Linked DNA regions of Homo sapiens: region 2 is linked to region 1. A link means that fine-mapping ties the variant in region 1 to the expression of a gene that starts in the linked region. Tissue or cell type: spleen. Region 1 holds a variant in brackets; the other region holds the start of a gene. All regions are shown on one strand. Distances are between the middles of the regions.

Region 1 (8,108 bases):
CCCAGGAGGTGGAGGTTGCAGTGACCTGAGATCGTGCCATGCCATTACACTCCAGCTTAGCAACAAGAGCAAAACTCTGTCTCAAAAAAAAAAAAAAAAAAAAAGAATATTACATGATAGAGTAAAAGCAGTACTTAGAGGTAAATTTATACTACAAATGACTATATTAAAATATATCCTACCCTTCTGTATTGACATTGGGAAAAGGAGAGTAAACTAAACCTAAAACTAGCAGAAGCAAGGAAATAAATATTAGAAAGGAAATTAATGAGATGTAGAATAGAAAAACAGAGAAAAATAATGAAACCAAAAGCTGGTTCCCTGAAATGACTAATGAAATTGACAAACCTTTAGCTCAACTAACCAAGAACAAAAAAAGGACTCAAATGACTAGAATCAGAAATGAAAAGGGGGACAAAACTACTAACCCTAGAGAAATAAAGAAGATTACAAAGGCATAATTGAAGAACTGTATATTAAAGTATTAGACACCTTAGATGAAATGGTCAAATTCCATTTTAGAAGGACTATATTAAAATAGATCATAACTTTCCATATTAAATCAATTCAAGGAGAATAAGGATTAATTAAACCAATTGTTTGGCATAATTGAATTTTAATAATTTCAGTTCATTGTACAGGCTTCATATATTTAGGTTTTGAATCCCATGTAGCCATGGATACTTCTTTGTCTTTTTCCCTAATAATCAACCCATTATTGATTTCAGGGCTTTAATTGGGTTGAAGAATGAGCACAAATATTAACTGTTCCTGCCTGAAGAATGACGATTATTGTGAAAGGACTTTTTAACGTGTGCAACAAATGATCATAATTTCTTTTTGATTTTTCTTTGTGATAAAGGGAAAAAATAGCATTAGTAATTGTTACAGAAGGTAGTAATAATATATAATAATTATATAATAATGGCAGAGTTAAGTTGAACACAATTTAGTAATCGTTTTGTTCTACAATATTTGTAAGATTCTTTTTCCTTTTGTAGTAAGTTTGTGTCTAAATTTTAAACATCAGACAAGTTGTTTTTAATTTTAGTGATGATCAGAGGAAATTAATGAGAAGCATTTGACTTTGCTTGTCATGCAAAGTGTACTGGTTTTGGTTGGTTTTTGTTTGTTTAACATTTGACACATTCTAGGAGGTACGATTGTTTCGGTTACCTAAACTGTGTTTTATACTATATGAATGAACTTACCCAGGGAATGGAGTAGATGAAAAAGAGAAAGCAGGAAGGAAATCTCAAAGGGATATTTTTATTTCTACAAAATAGCAGACTTGTAGCTTTCCTATCAAAGAAAGAATAATAATTAATTATGGGCCAGCAGCATGAACATGGGCAGCTCCTGGGAGCTTGTTGGAAATACAGACTATCAAATACCACCACAGACCCACTGAATGTGCATTTTCACAAGATCATGTGATTCCTATGCATATTTAAGTGTGAGTAGCCCTGATAAGGTACCCCTCCCCTGTATTATCTAGAAGCACTTTCTGTATTTGTGGTATTCTGCTAGGTGGGGGGTTCTACCCACCTAGCCCAGTGTTTACATTTAGATAAAAGGCTTTAAGCCTTAAGCTGTGAAAGATGTTTATGTAATTTACAACATTACTGATTAAAAGAGAAAGATGTATAAAGCACCAGGAGCTCTAGTTCCATTAAAACTGAACCGTAGGTGTGGTATCTGTTTCACGTGTAAGTAAGCCAGCTTTTTTTCAGTTAACCAGTACAAAGTAATTTAAATTCTTTGCGTCTTGGATTTCACTTGTTGTTAGAAGCTCTGGGCCTAAAAGTTATTATGCAATTTTGAATGAATCTTATAGGGGGTCAGTTTTTAGACAGTTGTGTCTGAAGACTGAGGATGCTATCTGCCCAAGGGGAGAGGGCATACTTTGGAAATTTTGGCACCTTTGGCTGAAAGGAATGTTTGTGGCCTGACTATATTTACTCCGCCTGCCTGAGATTATTCTGTTAGTATTTTGATATAAACCCATGGTAAAAAAGATGAGTATTAAGGAAAATCCGTAAATTATGCTTGCATCAGATTGAGAATTTTGCATTCCACTATCATTGCCTGAGGACATTTGGAGAACTATTAATATATTTAAATGATATAATAGTCCCTAAATGCAGAACCACAGAGAGTGTATTAACCTAAGTATTCTGGACAAATATTAGCAGATTGAATGATGTCAGTATGAACTAAGCCGCTACCAGCTTGAATCTGTTGATACAATTTGCAGTCACATTAAATAGTCAGTTTTATTCATTAAATGACAACTTCATCCTCCAAAAACCCATCTTGTTTGTAGTGTGATATGAATGGAGAAAAGCAGATAAAAAGCAAATATCAGGGCTTTGTTCTTAGCAGTACAGTTTAAGCAATTTTCTCAACACCCTCGTTTAATTTTCTTTCAAGGAATACCTACTATCTGTTAAACACTTTCCACCTGCCCAGTGTTCTAAACTTAATGAAACAACATGGCAGTAACTTTTGCAAAAGGCAGCATTTTCTAATGAAAATGCTCTTTGGTTAAGGAACACCAGAAACACACTTTTAGTTGAACAAGTTGATGATTTATTATTTGATAAAATGAAAGAGAATAAATCCCATGGAATCGTGGGACATCTCAGTAATAGTGTTGTTATGAGTGAATATTTGTGTCCCCCCAAAATTCATATGTTGAAGCCCTGATCTTGATGTAATTGTATTTAGAGACGGGGCCTTTGGGAGGTAATTAGACTTGGATGAAGTCATGAAGATGTGGCCATCATGATGGGATTAGTGCCGTTATAAGAAGAGATATGGTGGGAGTTTCCTTTTCCTCCCACCCCTGCCATATGTGGACACAACGAGAAGGCAGCAGCCATCTACAAGTCAGGAAGTCACCCCTCACCACAAACAGACCACGGTAGCACCCTGACCTCAGACTTCCAGGCTCCAGAACTGTAAGAAAATAAATTCTACTGTTTAAGTCACCCATTCTATGGCATTTTATATGGCAGCCTGAGCAGACCAATACAAGGGTGCTGGAAAGAACCTATAATAGCATTTGAGCATTGGTGGGGTGACTTTTGGGAGGGTCCAAGAAAGCAGAGATTTGCTCTAGATTGGGTACTCTCAAAAAGTGGGGACAATTCCGTGACTGGGTATCTCAGTGAACAGAGAGGGCAGACAAGAAAGAGGATAAAGCTATTTTTTTGTAAAGGAACAGCAGTCACTCATATTAGCCAGGAGATAGGGAGGTTGGGTATTTCGTGGGGGACATAATGACCTTGATTTTGTCTATGCTAAGATAAAATTATAAACTGACGTTGTTTTGTCTCACTTTATCATGGTCTCAGAGTGACCTTTTCTGATATTGGTGTCATGTGAAATTGTTTATGTCCTACAGGGAAATAACATGGCCT[AACTG/G]TGAGTACAAGGCCAGCTTCTTAACAACAGTGAAGCCCAGCCACACATGTCAGACTAGTTCCAGATATTACAGGCTGATTTCCTTTTCACTAGCTAGAAAATTGTTTTCTAGATGTTTTGGAAGAATTATTCCTTCCAGTAGCAAAATATATTTTATTTTAATAAAAGTATTTTTGATTTAGAGTCTTTAATTCATTCAATAAGCAAACATTGAATAGATAAAAGGACCATACATAGACTCTTAAAATTTCAGTTGTGAAATAAAGCTTAAACAGCATCTAATTCAATCTCTCGTTTGATACTGGTATCCTTTCTCTGACATTGCTGCCTAGTAATTGCCTAGTCTGTGTTGGAATGGTTCCAATAAGAGGAAGCACTCACCTTCCTGAGAGAATTCATTCCATAAGTTGAATAATCAAGTTAGACTTTGATTCGTTGTATATTTCATCTATTGGCTTTATTTGTACCCCTGAAGCAACAGAGAGCAAAACTAGTGTTTTCCATAAGAAAGGCATTCTAATCAAGGAAAAAATAATTCACACAAACTAATTCAAAGAAAAAAGTAATTTTTTTTAAAAAAGGCTACAACAGGCAATATCAAAGACAATAAAAAGAAATTCCCATCACACTGAAGCAAGCTAAGCCTCTTCCTCACGTCTTCCAGAGTCATACCATCTCTGATTTCTATTTTTCACTGAGTGTCCTTCCCATTTTTTCCTGCTTGCCAATCAGCATTCTGTTTCCCATTTTACTCGTAGCTTCAGCCAGCTGATTACTTTGGCTTACGGTGGTCCTAGCTCCAATGGAAACTGAAATCCCAAATCTACAGGATATTTTATCTTAAGAGCTTATGAACTTATGAGCTTAAGTGACTCAGTTTTGGATTAGTTCAAATTTAAGGGTAAGGGAAATCTGCTTGGATCAGTTCAGCCTATGATTTTTCTTCCTCTAGGTCAGGTGTTCAGTCTTGTCTAATTGTTCTACTTCTTAAAATGCAGCTTTTGTAGACAAGGGCCAGCACTGTGTTCATTACAGAAACTATTCAAGGTTCAAAGAGTTATTTAGAAATGTACCAGATTAGGGTAGAGGATGTGAAAATATAGAACCATTTAGGAAAATGGTCCCTAAACATACGAAAAATGCTCAACTCACTCATAATATGAATATAAAATAAAACTACTCTGTAATGCCATTTTTCACAGGCCTGTAAAATTGTGGAGTAAAATGTTAGATATGTTAGCCAATATAGCATATCAGAGGCTGTGAGGAAGTAGACCTTTTTACACATTGCTAGTAGGAGTATATATTAGTACAGTTTCTATGGAGATTAATTTGACAATGTGTTCGATTTAGATTTTCATCATTAGGGACGGAATAAATTCATTAAGATGCAGTCATAGAATGAAAACCTATGTAAAAATGATAAACATAGAAATACTTTACTTAGTGATATGGTATTTCCACATAAAAAAAAAAAATCCCACCTTCCTGGGCCCTTCCCCCATCCCCAAAATATCCATTAAAGAAACTAGACTCTGCTACACTGACAGAAGAGGGCACCATTGAACTAAAAATTTTGTAAGCCACCACACATCTACGAAATGGATTAGACAAAAGTGAATAAATCTATACAAATCTGCTATCTACTATAACAAAATCAAAATCAAAATTTTCATCCGATAAAAATTTGTCTTCAGAAAGCATCACGAAGCAGAAGAAAAATGTAATAAAAAGCTCCAAACTTGATTTAGAATTCTTAAGCATTTGTTGATATGAAAACATTAAAGGCAAAGTGGACAAAAAGCTATAGAAATCAAAAGAGATTGACTAAACTCAGGAAAGAAATTAGGAAAAGGAGAAAATTATCATAAATATGAAGACTAAATTAAAGAGTGCCTAAGGGAGGACAGACTGAAATGAAAATTTTATGGTATATTGAAGTAGGAAAACATAAAAGATATTGAAAAGTGACACACAGAAAAGTAAAATGGAACAGAAAAGAAGTGGCTGAAATGGAAGACAGGCAAAGAAGAAGACATATTAATTATAGTCTTTGTGGGTACACTAGCATGTCAGAAATCATCACTAAAGAACTTATCCATGTAACCAAAAACCACCAGTCCCCCAAAAACTATCGAAATAATAATAATAAAAAAAACTATAGTCCCTGAAGCAGAAAAAGAAAACAATAGAACAGGGCTAATATTTAAAACTTTAATTCGAGAACACTTTCCAGAAATAAATGAAGACCTGTATGTGCATATAGTAAGAGCTCAGTGGGTAGCTGGAAAAATCAACCTGGAATGGTGAACTTTGAGGCACATCCTAGTAAAACTATTAGATTTTGAAATCTAAAAAATAATTTTCTTAAGCCCTCCTACCAAAAATATTAAATGATTTACAAGGAGGAAAACATAGACTGGAGTCAGACTTCTCCAAAACAACATACAAAGTAAGACAGCAATAGAGCAACTGTGCAGAGTGGGGAGTGTGGAACTAGGAAGAAATTTTGCATTGGGGATTCTTTATTCAGATCTTAGAACAATAGGTAAAGTCTACTAGGGATGGTTTTTTTTTCTAAATAAAGGGACAACTGGGAAAACTTCAGAAATGGGGTATATGGTAAACATCTACTAGATTTTATCATAGATATGAGATTAAAAGAAATATGGGTACAAAGATATAAGTATAATGTAGAAATATTACATGTTCTGACAATGTAATGATGCAAACAAAAGAGAGAGGATAAAAGAGAGGTAAAGGTAAATAGGAAAGAGAAATAAGCTCTTGGTAGTATATTTTATATGTGAGAATTAAAGGATCATTAAAAACTGATAAATAAGAAGGTAACAGACAACTGAAAAAAATTATTTGCAATATACAGCCAAATAAAGGGCTAGTATCCCTAATGTATAAAGAACTATTAAAATTGAGAAGAAACACCAAAAGCTTGGTAGAAAAGATATGAACAATTTACAAAAAGAGATATAAAATTGACCCTTAAGTATTTGAAAAGTTATTCAGCCTCACTGATAATATAGAAGTGCAAATTGAAACTACAGAAATATATTTTTCATCTCTCAGATTGGAAAAAACTAAAAAGTATGGCAACACATTTGTTGGCGAGGTTATATGTAATCTGGCACTCTCATACTGACAACCTCAAACATGCCAATTGGTACAGCCTTTGGAGAGGGAATTTGGCAGTATCTAGTAAAAGTATTTAGACATTTACCTTTCAATGCAGACACCTTTTCTAGGAATTTATTCTGAAGATTTTCATTCAACAATTCAAAAAAAAATGCACGCATAAAGTTGTTTACTACAGCATTTTTTTGTAATTGCAACATATTGGAAATAACCTAAATGCCTTTATGTAGGAGAGAAGTTGAGCAAATTAGAGACTGTTCATCCAATGTAGTACTATACAGCTTAAAAAGAATAAGGAAGACCTCTATTCTGATATAGAATAACTTGTGGTATACTGTTTTATGAATTTTTAGAAAGCAAAATGCAAAAGAGCATCTAACACCTATAATTTTTATTTAAGGAAAAGGGAAATAGAAATGTATACATATTTGCTTATTTGTACAGAGAAAAACACAAGGAACATAAACTAAAACTAAAAAATAATGAGCTAGTTGCCACCAATGATGATTAGGAATATGAGAGTGAGAGCAAGAGAGAGAGAAGGAATGAGGTAGAATACATGGGTTCGGGGGAGAGATAGTTCTCTATACGTATTTGTATACTTCTGACATTTAGTACCAAGATGATGTTGCACATCCTAAAATAAATGAAGGAATGGATGAAATCAATAGGGTGTGGGGGGATGATGGAATACTAACAGGATAAATGAGGCTAATTGTATTTCAAATGGATAACATAACTATACTGAATGGGAAGGGAGCAGACTCATTTAAAGAGCTTTGAACATTGTATTTTGATTATATATCCTCAGGTTACAGACAAAAAGAACTTTAAACAAACATTTATTCTAGTTAGTAGGTTTATTTTTCACAGGGTGTACTAATCTGTTGTCATGCTGCTAATAAAGGCATACCAGAGACTGGGTAATTTATAAAGAAAAAGAAGTTTAATGGATTCACAGTTTCAGATGGCTGGGGAGGCCTCACAATCATGGCGAAAAGCAAATCATAGCAAAAGCATGTCTTACATGGTGGCAGGCAAGAGAGCTTGTGTAGGGGAACTCTCATTTATAAAACTATCAGATCTCGTGAGACTTATTCACTACCATGAGAATGGTATGAGGGAAAATGCCCACATGATTTAATTATCTCCACCTGGCCCTGCCCTTGACACATGGGGATTATTACAATTCAAGATGAGATTTGGGTGGGGACATAGCCAAACCATATCACAGGGGTATAAATTAGCAATTCTGAAACTATTTGAAGTGTATTCTAGTATAGAGTAATACATAGTAGTATGTGAGACAAGTTTTTTTATTATCAAAGAAGCAAGTTACGGATACATAAAGTGGAGACTAGAATGAAGTTTTTGATGTTACGTTAGAATTTGAGATGCCATTATGAACTCATGGCTTTAAAACATATAATAAAATATATGTAAATAGAAACAGATCTGTGTGTGTGTGGGGGGGGGGCGTGTTCTATCTTTGTTCACGAAGATAACCTAGAAACAATACCATTTAATAC
Region 2 (8,089 bases), 470 kb after region 1:
GCATTCCTGGGTTAGCTTCTGTAACCCTCACAGTTTCCCAAAGACGTGGGTGCTCTGACTACCCCCACTTTACCTAAGGAGCTCGAGGTACAGAGGTTTCATAGCAGTCCAAGATCCCCCAGCCGGTGACTGAGCCAGAAACTTCACTGCAATCATGTACCGAAGCCCTATTTAATACATTAAGTGCTTACGGTAAAGTAACTGTGTTACTTCAATGTATTTTTAAAAGGTCCCCTAAGAGAGCTTTGTTATCAAGTAACTTTTTCTCTCGAGTGTAAGGAATTTCGGGGTGGAAGGATGATTAGAGGCGATTGGAGGACGATTAGAGGAGAAACTGTTTTGTTTCCTATTTCTAAATATCTGCCAGGTCACTGTTGGAAATACTTTTTAGAGTAAGAATTGTAAAATCCTAACCTTATCACTTGTAAAATATACAGGTCAGTTAAGCAAACTTTCACCCCTCAATGCAAACTTGGAAAAAAAAAAAAAAAGCAAAGAGACTTCGGAACGTCTATGAGGCTTTTGGAATTAAAAAATAATTCTTACAGCCGACTGCAGCCCTAGTCCTCAGAAGCCCGGGGCGCACCAGTCCCCAGGCCCACCAGGGCACTGCTGTCCGCCCAGCCCCAGGCCTCAGCCACCACTGTGAGGGCGAGGGGCCCCGGGGCCGCGATCTGCCCTCCTCTGGTCTCACACATGCCCTTGGTTTTGTATCCCAGGCCACGTGCGCCGGGGCAGCCGCTGACATTGGGATCTACAGGGTAGTGACATTACGGACGAGTCAGCAAACCGCGGATCTCGCCCATAGGGGGACACACCCCCAGTCCCAGCCGGCCTTGGGAAGTCTCTGACTTCTAGCGCCTAGCCCTCGAAAGCCGAGAACTGGAGAAGCAGGTTCCGGGAGCCTTAGCAGCCCGGGGCGCAGACACCCCCGTGGAGGCTGCAGTAACCTGGCGACTGGGACTTGGGAGTGTAGATGTGGGTTCCTTGCCGAGGCGTGGCAGGCGTGGCAAGTCCGCAGCCGTTGGACACACGTGCCCTTTTTCATAATCGGCAAAGCCTGCGCCCCGCCTGCTTGGCTGGTAGGAATTCGGCACAGACAGCCTGGAGTTCCAGAGCTCAAAATTTGGCCATGCATTCCCACTGTCAAACACCTCTCGCCTCTTTGCTCTAAAGGGTGAGTCCGAGGTGGCCAAGATGGCAAGGCGGTGACAGCAGCGCCATTATCGATGGCTTCTCTGTCCACTCTCACCTGTTCCTGGGGCCTTCGGCCTCAGGTTGCGCTGTCCCCTACGACCAGCGCCCAGGTGCTCGGCCATGCCAAGTTGTGGACTAGCCCGGCGCCTGGCTCAACTCCGCTCCCCTTCGGTCTCATCCGCGTGGCACTGGGGTCTCGGGGAGCTTTGCCGGGATTGCACCACTCACATTCCAGGCGCGTGAGCGCCAAGGGGGAGCAGAGACGGGATTCCCTCATCGCAGTGCTCCTAATCCCTGACTAGAGGGAGGAGGGATCGGCGCTATACCGGCATCTCAGTCCGCCTTCCCTCAGATTCTACCCTACCGTAAAATGGGCCACACTGGCGATTACACGTCCGCGTCCCCCCGCTCCCCGAAGCCATAGCCACCATCCTCAGCCTCGAGCTCTTTGTCCAGTTTGGGTTTTATTCCAACACCCAAAGACCCATGGAGAAAACTTGGGGGACAGGTGGAAAGAAGGTTCAGCGCTCGTTTCTTCAAAAGGCACTCCCGCAAAGCTTAGCTCTGGGCGCATTAGAAACTGCGTTGCAGAACACTCTGGGAGAAGTGAGTGTCGCCAGAATTCAGACACACAGGGGCATTTTTGGTGGAAACCACAGAAGCTCGTTTATAAGGGGCTGGAAGGGAAATGAAAGGAATGAGAAGAGTGAGTCAACAAGCCTTTAAAAGAAACCTGGGGTCTGTGGAAACAACAGTCAGAGAAACCCCAAGAGCGGGCGAGCTAAGTGGCGACGCCTCGCTGCGAGGCGTCCGCGGACGCTTCCGCACTAAGTGGGGGCGCACGCTGGCAAAGGACTGGGGAACAAGTTCTTTCCGCCTCGGATGCTTCAGACCCTGGATGGAGCCAGGCACTGGGAGTGCGCCCCCTAATCACCAGCCCGGCGCTGGCAAAGTGGAAACTGGGAAGAAAAAACATCGAAGTGTTTGACAGCACCTGTTGGACCTGGGCACGCAGGAGCTACAGACGCCCTCTCCTCCAACCCCTTCACCTCCCTGGGACCCTCTACGTACACCGCGATGGGCGGTCGTCAAAGGTTGTCGCAGCCACACGGCGCATACCTGAACGAGTGCCCGCGCGCACCCGACCTCAGCGCCGCAGTGGGGAGTGGGGTCTGCAGAGTGGACGAGTGTGCAGGGAGAGCCGCGGAGAGCGGTTGGGTTAGGGCCCGGGGCCCGGGACGCGCCCCTGCTCACCTCTCTCACTGGCCTGGATATTGCGCACGATGTCTTCCAGATCCAAGTCTTTGGTCTCGTCGAAACTGTAGATGGACGTGTGCAAACCCTCCTCCTGGAAGACCTCGTGGACCCCCTCGAGGGTGAAGTAGCAGTTCCGCTCCAGCTTGTCGTCGCTGTAGACCAGTGCAGCGCGGCTCCAGTGGTGGTGGCGGAACAGGGCGAGCATCATCTCGCCCATCTTGGCGTAGGCGGGCGCCACGCGCGTGAGGTGCGAGTACTCAGAGTCCTTGTGCTGGAAGCCAGCGGCCAGCGCCCCAGCCGACAGCATGGGCAGGTCCCAGTGCGATGCAAGCCGGGCCACTGGCGCTGCTGCATACTCGCACACTGGCCCCAGGATAAGGTCTGGCTTGGCGCCCCGCGCCGCCGCCACGCGGTCCACCAAGCTGAAGAGCGCACGGTTCCCACAGTCTGAATCCTCGTAAGCCACCTGGAAGCGAGTGCCCGGCGGCAGAAGCCGCCTCCCAGTCCCGTTGCCCTCCACGCTGCGCAGAGCATACTCGATGGCCGGCCGCACCCGGGTGAGTGAAAACAAGTACGAGTCATCCTGGGGCAGTAACACCAGCACCTCGATCTTCTGTGGCGGCAGCGCCTCTCTCTCCTGGCGTCCGCCGCCTATGCCCGCGCCACCGCCGCCGCCGCCAACGCCACCGCCACCGGTGCCGCCGGCCAGCAACGCCCAGCCGAGTAGTACGCACGGGGAGAAAGTGAGCACCAGCAGAGACGGCATCGTGCCGCAAGAAAGAGCTTGCCCTCGCCGCCGCCGACTCGCCCTCTGCCCCCCACCCACCCTTCCTCTTTCCTCCCCACTCTTCTCTCCAAGGTCCCTGCGCCCCCTTGGGCGCTTTAACAAAATAGAATACCCCCTTCACTAATGCGCCAAAAGATAGAGAGGAAGCGTCCTTCTCTGCAATGTCACTAGTTTTTCTTAAAAAAAAAAGAAAAAGAAAAAGAAAAAGTTCACCGGGTGTAAACCTGTGCGTCTGTAATATACATATATATATACTTGTATATATTCGCCCTCCGTTTATACATATACTATTTTGCTTAGAGGTGGCTTCTTATTTGGGCGTTGCTAAGGTTGCTTTTGAAAGCGTTTTTGTAGAAGAAAAAAAAAGTTAGACTTGTCCAAGTGTTTGTAATTGACGGTGCATCTCCCTCGCATTTGATCTCATTGATTCGCGCCGGTTCCTGGATCCATAGCCCGCGTTTAAATAGCGTGGCAGCGGCTGAGCGTGTTACCACACATGGCGCGCCGAGGCCGGGCTTGTGTTTCCAGCGGGTGGGGTGGGTGGGGGTGGGGAGATGTGGGGGCTGGGCTGGGGGAGTCTCTCATTAACATTCTTACATCAGGGCTCCTCCCTGCACCCCTTCACTACCCATCGCGCCCCTGTCCCTAACCACCACTCCCCGCAGGCCCTCTGCCTTTTCCTTAAAGCTGAAATCGCCCACGTCTGCACCGGCAAGAGCCCCCACCACGCCGCGTGCCTGTGCGATCACCGCCTCTCCCTTTCCACGCTCTCCAGCTCCTGGCTTCAAAAAAGGAAACGTGCTTTAAAGTAGAGAAATGCGCGCGCGCACGCACACATACACACACACACACACACACACATATACACACACACACCGTGCAAAAAAAAAAAAAAACCAGGACTGGGGGAAAGGGATGGTTCTAGAAATTGTGGTTTCGGTGCAAAAATCCTTAGGTGCCGCTTGCTCTCACCTTTCTCGTTCTGGCCACATTCCCTCCTGAAGCACCGACGCGGGGCGAGCACCTGACCTTCCTGGTCCCTCGGCGCAAGGTCAGGGAACAAGGACCAAGGTCCCAGTGCAGATGGCTCCATCGCGGACCTGGTGTGCCCGGCTGGCCCGGGCGTCACCTACACCCCGCCTTCCTCAGCCCCGCGCCAGCCCCCTCCCCCTGGGCCACGCAGGTTTGCGCTGGAATCGCAGCGGTGCCGAGGTCACAGTGTCCCAGCTCACGGACCCTCTGTCAGCGCACTGAGAGCAGGAAAGTGAAACTTGTTGCTCCCAAAGGCGAGGGAATGGTTCAACTTCTGGAGGTGTCACAAAGCTTGGAAAGCATCCCCAAAGCGTCCTCGGGGCTTTGTTTGCTAAACCAGGTACCTAAATAAAGGGACTGTCTTTCCCAAAACGTTCCCGGTAGGTCCCCCGGGTACGACACACGCTCCCCTCCAACCTGAGTGCTCAAAGATCCAACCGCTCCTTCTCTGGAGCGCTCGAGGCACTGTGCTGGGGTTCCGCGACTCCAAGAAAGGTCCTGCCTCGGAGACCCAGTCCTCCCACTGGCCATAGCCACAGCAGCGGTGGAGACCGGAGGGAAGCGGCTCTGGAGAAGTCCGTGACCAGAGGAGCATCGCGGGAGTCCGCCGCGCGGCGGGGCGGGTCAAAATGGAACTGGACCTTCTGTGCCTACTGCAGCCAAGTCATTTGCAATGTGAACGGGCTACACTGGGCGGGAGAATTCTGACAATTAAGTCCCGCACATTTAAATACATTGAAAATGTGTTAAAATGGTCTTTCATTTGACTAGGCGTCCGTGTCCACAAATTTCTTTTAGTCTCAGACCGACGCCCTCTTTCGGCAGAAACTTGCACCCGACTCAACCCGGGTGCCGCAGTCCCAGACGCTGCGTTTTTTACTCCGAGGCCTTTAACGCGCTCTGGTTCTCACTTGCGACGGTGAAAAGGCAAACTGGGGTTTCTGGGGATATGGCAACTTCTGGCGTCAGCGCTCGCCTCCCTTAACAGCACTCTCCTTATCGCTCTTTCTGGAACCGTCAATGTGATTATGGGTAATGTTTCAGCTTCTGGGTCATTTATATTCAGATTATGCACTGTGATCCCGAAATCTTCACTGTTAAGTAGGAGCTTCTAATTCCTGCGAGAATTTCCATTTATTTAATTAGAGCCACTAACCAGGAGCAAAAGAGACATCTGTATAAAATTTAATTCCACAAACAGGGTAATCCACACACACTGGAAATTGAGATTTAGTGCTCCACAGCAATTAAATCTTTCCTGAATTTGCAGAAGGGCAGGCGTTTATGGCAGCACAGATTAAAAAAAAAAAAAAAGAAAAAGAACAACAACAAAACAAGAACTAAATCATGAATTCCAAGGGTCTTAATGGATTTCGAAACTGGTTGCCAGGCACTGTGCTGGGGTTCCGAGACTCCAAGAAAGGTCCTGCCTCGGAGACCCAGTCCTACCACTGGCCACAGTGGTAGGAACCAGTGTTTCCTATTACTCTGCGGTATGCCCTGTGTCTGCGGAACACCAGCCAATGGCGATATGATTCTGCCGCGTGTGGTGTGGGTTTATGCGGAGAGTCTGGGGTTTCAGTGGCACCGGTGTGAACGCCTGTCCCATCCCAGATGCTACCTAGCCTCGCCTGCAGTTCAACAGCAGGGCAGTGCGCTTAAGTAAGGGTGAGTGCCCGTAGCCTCTCCGCAGCTTTTGGACAAGAGCTCTCGACTTGCAGTTTGTCACACTCAAGAGCAGCAACAAGACCAAGCTGCGGAAGGGAAGAGACCCCAAACCAAGCAGCGGAACGAATTAAAAAAAAAAAAAAAGCCAGTGTTATGCTTTTGCTGAAGCTCAAAACACCCCTTAAGAATTCCAGTGAGCAACAATTAGGGTTTTTAAAAAACCTTTTCAAATGAAAAGAGTCACAAGATTATGGGAAGACCCACCAAGTAATGTAAGTGTATGGATTTCAAAGTTACGGGTTTGTTTACTTTCCATCAAGTTAGAATTTTTGCAACCAACTGAAAGTTTGTGTAAATAAGTAGTTCTAAATCTTCAGGCCAGAAGACTTAAGTCACCCAGCCTGACACCCCTTACTCTCTAGATGAATTAAGGCCCAAACAGTATAAGTGATATACTTAAATACCTCTTCATCCCCTGAGAATATTTTTAAATGGGATTGTATTCAAAGTAAACCAAGGACCACCAGTTACATCATGTGAAAGTGTTAGGAACAAAGTTAATTTCTACTCTAAGTAATAACATTCTTTATATCAAATTTTTATATATATATATAGCTAAGTTTGGAGGCTAATACAGCACAATAAACCCAAAAATAACATTTTGTAATAGAATTTTTGCAGCACTTTAATCACAAAAATGAATCAAAAGGAAAAAATAGAAATAACTTATTTATTTGACTCAATTTTTAAATATTATTTCTTTCAATTCTGTAAAACACTGAAATGGGGAAAAATAAGTATTTTTTTAACATTCAAAAGAGTGGTAACCTTTTTACTAGGTGCTTCCTTTCTGGCTTCAGTTGTTGAATGAAACCAAAGGAAAGTTATGGGAAAATGCTGCAAAATGAAAGAAAATTAGCCATTTGAAAGAAAGACAATGTTAGCTCTAAACAGGATATTTCAGAAACTAATAGACTTTTTATGAGGTTTAGAAATGTTTTACTTAATATCCACAAACCATGTTTTGTTGTTTGGGTTGTTTTTTTTTTTTTTTTTTTTAAAGCTACTACAATAAGGTGGCAAGCTACTACAATAAGGTGGCAAGTTTTCTATAAAGTATTCAACGGTTTATTTTCCAGCTCTATGAAATGAAATTACTGTCTATATGTTATTTCTCACTACCAGGAAAGACAGCATTAATATAGGAAAACTAACATGTGATTCTTTGAAGTGTATTAGAAATTCTATCAGAAGTAAGTTTTCTCCACCACCAACTGTAACAGTCTCTGCAACTCTTCTCCCTTGGCATCCTGGCTGCAACCTCTAAACTAAGAACCCACCTAGATTTTCAGAGGTCCTTTTCTCCCTTGTTGAGCCAGCCCTAAAGTTGTATTCGAGAATACCCCTGTGAAGCCTGTGGCCCACAATAAAATACCTTCTGAGGCCAGAATTGTTGAAAACACACTCCCCCCTAGAGGCAGAAAAGATGAAAGAACATTACAAATAATTCAAGAACATTTCTGTAATGTAATCAGTGTTGAGATTTCATTCTTTACATATAGTTGCTGTTTTAGAGTGAACTATTCAAGAAGTGGGGAAAAAAAATCAATGGATGCCAAAAAATTAAATTAAAATTTTGCCTCTAGGTTCTTACTTTCCTTAGCAGGGACTTTATTAACTTACTCTTTTTCTTCTATTATATAAATCTATTATTTTAATTTGCCAGCACTATAAATAATAGTAATTTTATATTTTTCTAATTAAATTTATAATTCAATCTCATCAGAAGCTGCAGCTAAATGTGACCTTAAGGGGTTCTTTTGAAAACACAGAGTTGTTTCTTTATTATAATCCTCTTAGATTTCCATCAACTACCATCTTTTTTTCACTTCTTTGAAGATGTTCTGAGGCAAAGTGACATTAGAAAGACTTCTGAAAAACGTATAGCTAGTCAGTGATTTAACCTGAATACTGGCATAAGATTTGCAAGCTATATGAAGAATTCTCATATCATTGATTTATAGACAAGTTAATTTATGTAGATTATTATATTCACAAAAACGAGTGTGAATGGGGACTTCAAAAAGTTCATGTAAAATGGAATTAAAAGATAAAAATTTAAAATATGAACTTTATTTCTTAACAAAA

Evidence for each region. PIP is the estimated chance that this variant, and not a neighbour inherited with it, causes the effect.
Region 2: it holds the start of NPR3, and the variant in region 1 is fine-mapped to the expression of NPR3 in spleen (GTEx, PIP above 0.99).

What each region holds. Positions count from the first base shown.
Region 1 is chr5:33,177,972-33,186,079 of GRCh38, reverse strand. No RefSeq gene overlaps it. Among named protein-coding and RNA genes, the nearest start is that of LINC02160, 48 kb to the left of the region's middle. The variant AACTG/G (reference allele first, on the strand shown) is at 3,426.
Region 2 is chr5:32,706,908-32,714,996 of GRCh38, reverse strand. NPR3 (natriuretic peptide receptor 3) reads right to left here and starts at 3,676. Exons shown (of 8, transcript NM_001204375.2): 1 at 2,452-3,676. The coding sequence starts at 3,220. RefSeq lists a silencer at 2,420-2,714 and an enhancer at 2,590-3,315.